Linked DNA regions of Homo sapiens: region 2 is reported to be linked to region 1. The links are microRNA targets in miRTarBase. Many come from high-throughput screens and were not tested one by one. Region 1 holds a microRNA gene; the other region holds the end of a gene's coding sequence.
The links. Region 1 holds the annotated microRNA hsa-miR-4497 (CUCCGGGACGGCUGGGC, at 2,550-2,566, shown strand). A microRNA usually pairs through its seed, bases 2 to 8, with sites in the 3' UTR of a target mRNA and lowers its output. Matches are read on the target gene's strand: a 7mer-m8 pairs with bases 2 to 8, a 7mer-A1 pairs with bases 2 to 7 and ends in A, and an 8mer does both.

Region 1 (4,067 bases):
AAAGGACTTTGACCATCTCAAAAGTATTTGTTCAGACAACCATGCCATAGATACTGACTGAGCACCTACTATGTGCCAGGCACATGAGGCTCAGTCTTGTGTGTTTCCTTCCCTCCTACATCTCCTTCCAGCTGCCGCTCTCCACTCAGAGCTTGGATGACTTCCCCAGCCTTGGGGCCAGCCTCTCTGTCTGAGCTCCTCCAATCTTTCCCACTCTGCAGCCACAGGGACCTTTCTAGAACAGACAAACAACCGTGTCACTCCCAGGCAGGACTTCTGGGCCTCTGGGTCTGATTTAGCTCCTGCCTGTCTGATCCCTCACCCTTTCCAGTCACGTCACAAACTCCAGACAAACAGAACTATTTCTCTGCTCTATAAACCCCAGGTGTAGCCACCTGGTAACAGGTAAAAGTCATATCTCTGCTAGTGCCATTCTCTTTGCCTGAATACTCTTTCCTCTACTTCTGCATTTATTCTTTAAGGTGCGGCTTAAACACTACCTTGACCAAGCCCTCGTGGGTCCTTCCTGGGCCAGTCCTCCTACCCTACGGCATTCTCCCCTGACCCCATCCATTCCACAGCATACATTTACTAAGCGTCGGCCATCCATGCACACCTTGCTAGATGCTCACAAGTCAGGTGTGGGAGCTCCTCCCCGGGGGGCCACAAGGGAAAATCCTTCTTGCCTTCACACGCCTCAGGCTACAGCGAAGCTGGGATTGGAAGCATCTCACTGCTCCAGTGCCCAGCCCAGAGCTGGCACAGGTGAGCTTGCAGAGAGCATTTGCTGGAGGAGGGAGTAAGTGGCAGAGGCCCAGTTGGCACCAGATAAGGCAGGAGGAACCTCCACAGCCCCTTCCCCAGATATAAGGTATCTGGGTTTCACCTGGGGAATCCCAGCCATCCTCACCGGAGCTCATGTGAAACATCCCTCCTGGGGGCATCACACCCTTTTTGTTCAGGCAACCATTCCCTGGTTACCTCCATTTCAAAACAGCCCCACCTTGATCTTACAAAGTGAACCGCCCTGAACTATGACTGCCATTTGCCATTTGTGTCTGGGACCCCTTCCGCGTGCAATTCACCAATCAAGGTGGGTGTCCAGGCTTTCTGGTTCCCATCATTCTTCAAACAGAATGAACTAGAGAAATGTGGAAATGGCCAATTGACTTTTTTCACCCTCTTTGTTAAGAAAATGTTTGGGGCAACGACAACTGGTTAAACATTGATGGCAGCCAACAGTGGCTGTGCCAGGTTCCTGGAAGGTCATCGGTCCTCACGACAGCCCTGGGGGCTTGCCCTCAGGCACCCCAGTATTACAGAGGAGAGAACACAAAGGCTCAGACAGCTAAGGGACCAGGCCAAGGTCACACAGCAGGGGACTGCAGAGCACACCCCGGGCCCCACACAGGCCCGCTCTTAGCCCCGCAGATAACCCAGGCCTGACCTTTCTACCCTTGTTCCCCCAAAAGCCCACCTCGTCACCCTCCTCAGGAGCCCGGGGAGTCCCGACTTACCCTCTGCCCTTGCTCCGGAGCCAAAGTGGCAAAGCTTAAATCCTCAAGCGGTTCTTAGCATCCCAGAACAAAGCTCCCACAGGGTATCTGCCTAACATTTCAGGGGTTCACGGCCCCTCTGCCCCCAGCAGAGGCTCTTGTTTTAGAAGCTGAGCCAGAACAGCCACAGGGCCCACCTCTGCCCTGCCACTTCCCAAGCACCCCGGGGGCACCAGGCCCTGTGTGCAGAGCTGGCCCCAGGACAGGCCACCTGGTGTGGTGGGAAGGGCTTTGGGGCTGGATAGTCCCTGGGTTTAAATCCCAATTGTCTAGATCCCCGACCTAAGCCTCAGTTTCCCCATCTGCAAAACAGAGAGGACAGACAGAGGGAACAGCTGGGGCAGGCTGGAGCAGTGGGTGGCTCGATGAATGCATCTGTGGTTGGTGTTTCCAGGCAAGCGGGGAGTGTGGGAGTCTCTCTCTCCCCCACCCCCACCCCCGCTACCCACCCCCAGGAGCCACCCGCCCCCGGGACGTCCTGAGAGTCCAGGGCAGAACTAGAGGTTAAAGATTTTCATGCCTCTTGGAGGAAACAGCCGTCTCTCCGGGACTCAGTAACCAAGAAGAAGCCTTTGGAAGCTCCAGACTCCAAATTCCCTCCGACATGCTCAGGGGCCAAGGGCAAACCTTAGGTCCCCCGAAATCCCTCTTCCAAGTCTCCTAAGGTGGGCTGCAAGGCTCCGGGCCTTTGGTTCCCTGGCTTGGGGTCTCAGGGAACCGAACCGCCCTCCCCCCAGACCTGCTACCCCAGGCCCCACGTTGGTGCCCATTTCACAGGTGATAAAACCGAGACCCAAAGAGCCGGTGTCCGGCCCAAGGGCACTTAGCTGAGAGGCTGGCGCCTGCGGAACCTGGTGCCTTCCGTCTCCCGCGCCCCTGGCCCGCATTTTGGAGCCTCGGGACCCCCCGGAGCCGGACGGGCCACGGAGATGTCCCCAGGGGCGCGAGGGGACCTCGGCTGAGCCGCCCCTCCCGGGCCCGGGCCCCACTTACCTCCGGGACGGCTGGGCGCCGGCGGCCGGGAGATCCGCGCTTCCTGAATCCCGGCCGGCCCGCCCGGCGCCCGTCCGCCCGCGGGTCCCTCCTCCGCCGGCTCAGGTTCCAGCCGCGCGCCGCCCCCGGCCAGCTCCCCGCCCACCCGCCGGCTCGCGGACCCCGCCGAGCGCAGGCCCTAGAAGGGGCGGCCCCTACTCGCACCCCGCCCGCCCAGCGAGGGCCTCCCCTGCGGGGGAGGTGCAGGGCCAGGGCCTCAGTTTCCTCGCCTGGAAAATGGGTGTCGCGATCCCCGGATAGAGCGGCAGACGGTCTTTGGAGAGGGCTCTAGTTGGAATCGGCTCCGATTCGATCTTGCTCCGTGACTTCGGGCCGCCCTGGGACTGTGTCCTAGTCTCTAAATGGGCGTCCCGGCCCAGTCCTCCACGTGTTTGCTCATTCATTCATTCAGCAGACAATTTCCTCCGAGGCGTTGAAGGAGGTCCCTACCCTCGGGTATGGCCCATAGAGATGGTTCAGGGGTAAATAAATGTGAGCTGCTCTCCTTGGTCTTCACCCAGTGCTTACTGCGAAGCCTGCCTCGGAGTAGGCCATCAATGTTTTGTTGCTGTTGTTTTTGAGACAGGGTCTCACTCTGTTGCCCAGGCTGGAGTGCGGTGGCGTGATCAGGAATCACTGCAGCCTCAACCACCAGCGTTCAAGCAATCCTCCCGTATCAGCCTCCCTAGTAACTGAGACCACAGACGCCTACCACCATGCTTGGCTAATTTTATTTAAATTTTTTGCAGAGATAGGGTCTCACTATGTTGCCTAGGCTGGTCTCAAACTCCAGGCTCAAGCGATCTACCCACCTCGGCCTCCCAAAGTGCTGGGATTAGAGGTCTGAGTCACCGTGCCTGGCTCAATGCGTTTTTGTTTATTTTTTTTATTATTATTATTATTTTTGATACATGTTCTCCCTTTGTCACCCAGGTTGAAGTGCAGTGGCATGATCACGGCTCACTACAGCCTCAAACTCCTGGCCTCAAGAGATCCTCCCACCTCAGCCTCCTGAGCAGCTGGGAGTACAGGCATGCGCCACCACACCCCACTAATTTTTATTTTTTTGTAGAAGGGGGGGTGGGGGAGGGCAGCCGGTCTACAACTCCTGGCCTCAAGTGATCCTCCCACTTCAGTCTCCCAAAGCACTGAGAGTATAGGCATGAGCCACCACACCTACCCATGTATTTTCTTTTATCAGATAACAAAGGTGGGCCCCAACACATAGCCATACCCTCTACCCAGCACTGAGTCCACTTGAATACCTCCACAGGATGGGCAGCTCACTTCCTCCAGGGTGGTTGGAAAGCCTAGCAGGCCCACAGCTTGGCTCTGTGACTCTCTAACCCAGCAGCCCTATGCAAGTCCCTTCACCTTTGTGCCTCAGTGCCTCTACATCCCCCTGTAGAGTGGGGCATACAAAAGTCCTCACCTCACAGTCGCAGTGAAGATGCTGGGAGCATCCAGGCTGTGCAGAGC
Region 2 (4,056 bases), not on the chromosome of region 1:
ATTGAGTTAACTGTTTTTATATTTAAGCCCTTCATGTACTTACTCATTTTTTCTTCTGTGTAATAATCTATAGGGAAGGGAGCAAAACAAACCTGATTCTTCTCCTCTGTACATTCAGAATCCATTTGAAACTTCTCTCAACATAAGCAAAAATGTAAGTCAAAGCCAGCTGCAAAAATTTGTAGATTTGGCCCGAGAAAGTGCCTGGATTTTACAACAGGAAGATACAGATCGACCTTCCATATCAAGTAATCGGCCCTGGGGGCTGGTATCCCTATTGCTACCATCTGCTCCAAACAGAAAGTCCTTTACCAAGAAGAAAAGCAATAAGTTTGCAATTGAAACAGTCAAAAACTTGCTAGAATCTTTAAAAGGTAACAGAACAGAAAATTTCACAAAAACCAGTGGGAAGAGAACAATTAGTACTCAGACATGATGGCTGCTACATTGTGTAAAGAACTGGGCTTAGCCTATCAAATGGTCTGTGGACTTACTTGGAAAAACTGATTTGAAACTTTCACAGATCTCAGCTTTCATCTGATGTCACTTTTCATGATCTTCTCATTGGCCCCCTTAACCTGGTCTGAAGTTCTGGGATGTTTTCAGTTTGATCAGTCTGATACTCAGTGGCACTTTATTAAAACATCAGCTGTGGAGTGTGGCGGTGCACACCTGTAGTCCCAGCTGCTCAGGAGGCTGAGGCAGGAGGATCTCTTGAGCCCAGGATTTTGAATCCATCGTGGACAACATAGCAAGATTCCATCTCTAAAAAAAATGAAAATAAACATAAGCCACAAGGAATGGGTGAAAGATTATTGTAATGTGCTTTAACTAAATAGGTAAATATACTAAACAAATGCTAAAACTCAGTTTTAGGATGAAACCATTGTTGATATCCACATCAGTCCCTGTTTAGAAAACATTTAAAATGACTTTTAGTTATGTACAGTACGTTGGCAATGAATACATTAAGCTTCAAAATTTGGTAGTGCTCTCGAATATGTATATTTGTATTTTTCAAGCGAAGTTCTCTTATTCACATATAAATTAAAGTGGGTTGGTACTGATATCAAAAAATGTTTATGTTTTTAGAACAGACATTTCAGTCACTGCATTCTTAGGTATTCCAAACCAAATATGATGACATCAATAGATTGCATTTTAAAAATATTGTTTGATTTTTCTATTTTCAAAAATAAAATTCTGTTTCTAACTAAAATGTGATATTCCCAGTATTCCTTCACATCTCTTTTGAGAACTCCCCTCTTCCTGCAGGAAAGAGACATATTTGTCTCTCAGTATATGCAGAAAATTGGTTCCAGGACCATCCACGTACACCCAGATCTGCACACACTGAACTCCTTCAGTCCTGTGGAGCCCGTGCATGGGAGAATTCCACCTTGCACATAAGCAGATTTTGCATCCTGTGAAAGTACTGTATTTTCTTTCTTTCTTTTTTTTTTTTTTTTTTTTTTGAGACAGAGTCTCGCTCTGTCGCCCAGGCTAGAGTGCAGTGGCGCAATCTCGGCTCACTGCAAGCTCTGCCTCCCAGGTTCACGCCATTCTCCTGCCTCAGCCTCTCTGAGTAGCTGGGACTATAGGTGCCCGCCACCACGCCCGGACAATTTTTTTGTATTTTTAGTAGAGACAGGGTTTCACCATGGTCTCGATCTCCCGACCTCGTGATCAGCCCACCTCAACCTCCCAAAGTGCTGGGATTACAAGCGTGAGCCACCATGCCTGGCCGAGAATACTGTATTTTCAATCCAAGTTTGGTTGGAAAAAATCTGTGTGTAAATGGACTTCGCAGTTGAAACCCATGTTGTTCAATGGGCAACTGTATATTGAAATTTAATTTCCATTACATTCTCTGTGGAGCAACTTTTTTGCTTTGTTTCGTTTTGTTTCTGAGACGGAGTTTTGCTCTTGTTGCCCAGGCTGGGGTGCAATGGCACAATCTCAGCTCACTGCAACCTCCGCCTCCCGGATTCAAGTGATTCTCCTGCCTCAGCTGGGATTACAGGCGCCCACCACCAAGCCCAGCTAATTTTTGTAGTTTTAGTAGGGACAGGGTTTCACCATGTTGGCCAGGCTGATCTCGAACTCCTGACCTCAGGTGATCGCCCACCTTGGCCTTCCAAAGTGTTGGAATTACAGGCGTGAGCCACTGCACCTGGCTTCTGTGGAGTAACTTTCTATTTAAGAAGCAAGTAAGGCCTGGGCATAGCGGCACATGCCTGTAGTCCCAGGTACTTGGGAGGCCGAGGCACAAGGACTGCTTGAACCTGGGAGGCAGAGGCTGCAGTGAGCTGAGATCACAGCACTGTACTCCATCCTGGGCGACAGTGAGACTCTCTCAAAGGAAAAGAAGCAAGTAGTATAGTGTTTAAAAACAGACTTGAGCGAGACTGGCTCAATGACAAGTTACTCAGTCTCTTGGGGCCCCTGTTTGATCTGTAAAATGGGGATCATGATCAGATCAATGTGAGGATTAAGCGAGGGATGTAGGAAAATGCTAGGTCAGTGCATTTTCCTGGCGCGAAGTAAATGTTACTTCTCTTTAACTGTTGCCTTTCGGTGTTTGTGGTATGTAATTACCTTTTTTGCTACTCAAAATTCAGATTTAGAGTTTGTAGTACTTTAAAAATTTTTCCCATTTAAATTTTATGTCAGAAATTATAATGGGTTCTGCATGGGATATTTTAAGAAACTCAGCATTGTTATGAAGCAAATGAATTCTGTGTCCTTGTGTCTGTGCTATTGGATTGCACATTTGACACCAACAAATATCAGTGTTCTGTACAGGCGATGTCTTTAAAAGCCATTTTTCATTTGTTCTTTATTTTGTTGGGCTAGAAATCCATATTGATTTAAAAAGCTTAAAAAGCATAAACCACTTAAGGGTTTCTAAATGAAATTTTTTTTTCTGTTCACAGATATTTAGTCAGATATTTTCTTTTTTAGGTTGGTGCTAGGTGTAATATGGTTATTTAAGCACATAAAGTATGTGTATGGGTTAGCATTTTCTTTTCTTTTTGGTAATTTGTAGGACAGCCTTGACACTAGGCTGTTTTACTTTTCAGAATCAGATTTAATTATGTGATTAATTTTAAATCTACAAAGACTTGTTTTTTGTTTTTTTTTTTGAGAGCAAATCTTGCTCTGTCACCCAGGCTAGACTGCAGTGGTGCGATCTCGGCTCACTGCAACCTCTGCCTCCTGGGTTCAAGCGATACTCCTGCCCCAGCCTCCCAAGTAACTGGGATTACAGGCGCCTGCCACCATGCCTAGCTAATTTTTGTATGTTAGTAGAGACGGGGTTTCACCATGTTGGCCAGGCTGGTCTTGAATTCCTGACCTCAAGTGATCTACCTGTCTCAGCCTCTCAAAGTGCTGGGATTACAGGTTACAGGTGTGAGCCACCGCACCTGGCCTACAAAGACCCTTTTTTTTTTTTTTTTTTGAGATGGGTCTCCCTCTGTCACCCAGGCTGGAGAGTGCAGTGATCTTGGCTCACTGAAACCTCCACTTCCCGGGTTCAGGTGATTCTTCTGCCTCAGCCTCCTGAGTAGCTGGGATTACAGGTGCATGCCACCACACCTGGCTAAGTTTTCTATTTTTAGTAGAGATGGGGTTTTACTCTGTTGGCCAGGCTGGTCTCGAACTCCTGACCTCAGGTGACCTGCCCACCTCGCCCTCCCAAAATGCTGGGATTACAGGCATGAGCCACCACGCCTGGCTGCAAAGACCTTTTAATACACAGTTTTAAAGTCTGTTCAACTGAATATAGACTACAGACAAATATATTTTCTCATAACTTTAGTGTATCACAACCCAGATTTTTAAAATATTTTTATTACGTGATAGTGATAACTAGCAATTATTTGTCATTGCTGTTTCTTAATTAAAAATAATTGCAATGTTAAGTAAAACTTTTTTCAAGTTTTTTTCTTCTATAACTATTACTAGGCTTTCATTCAGTAGCTTTCACCTGTAATGAGTTTTACTAAGTATGTGAAAGTAATTTTGATAGGAGACTACCCAGATCAAAACGAT

Region 2: miRTarBase lists MTPAP as a target of hsa-miR-4497. Seed matches in the 3' UTR shown: 7mer-m8 at 1,982-1,988.

Annotation. Positions count from the first base shown.
Region 1 is chr12:109,830,801-109,834,867 of GRCh38, forward strand. MIR4497 (microRNA 4497) reads left to right here and starts at 2,548; the gene lies at 2,548-2,636. TRPV4 (transient receptor potential cation channel subfamily V member 4) reads right to left here and starts at 2,598. Exons shown (of 16, transcript NM_021625.5): 1 at 2,550-2,598.
Region 2 is chr10:30,309,989-30,314,044 of GRCh38, reverse strand. MTPAP (mitochondrial poly(A) polymerase) reads left to right here. Exons shown (of 9, transcript NM_018109.4): 9 at 74-4,056. The coding sequence ends at 436. Among named protein-coding and RNA genes, the nearest start is that of MTPAP, 37 kb to the left of the region's middle.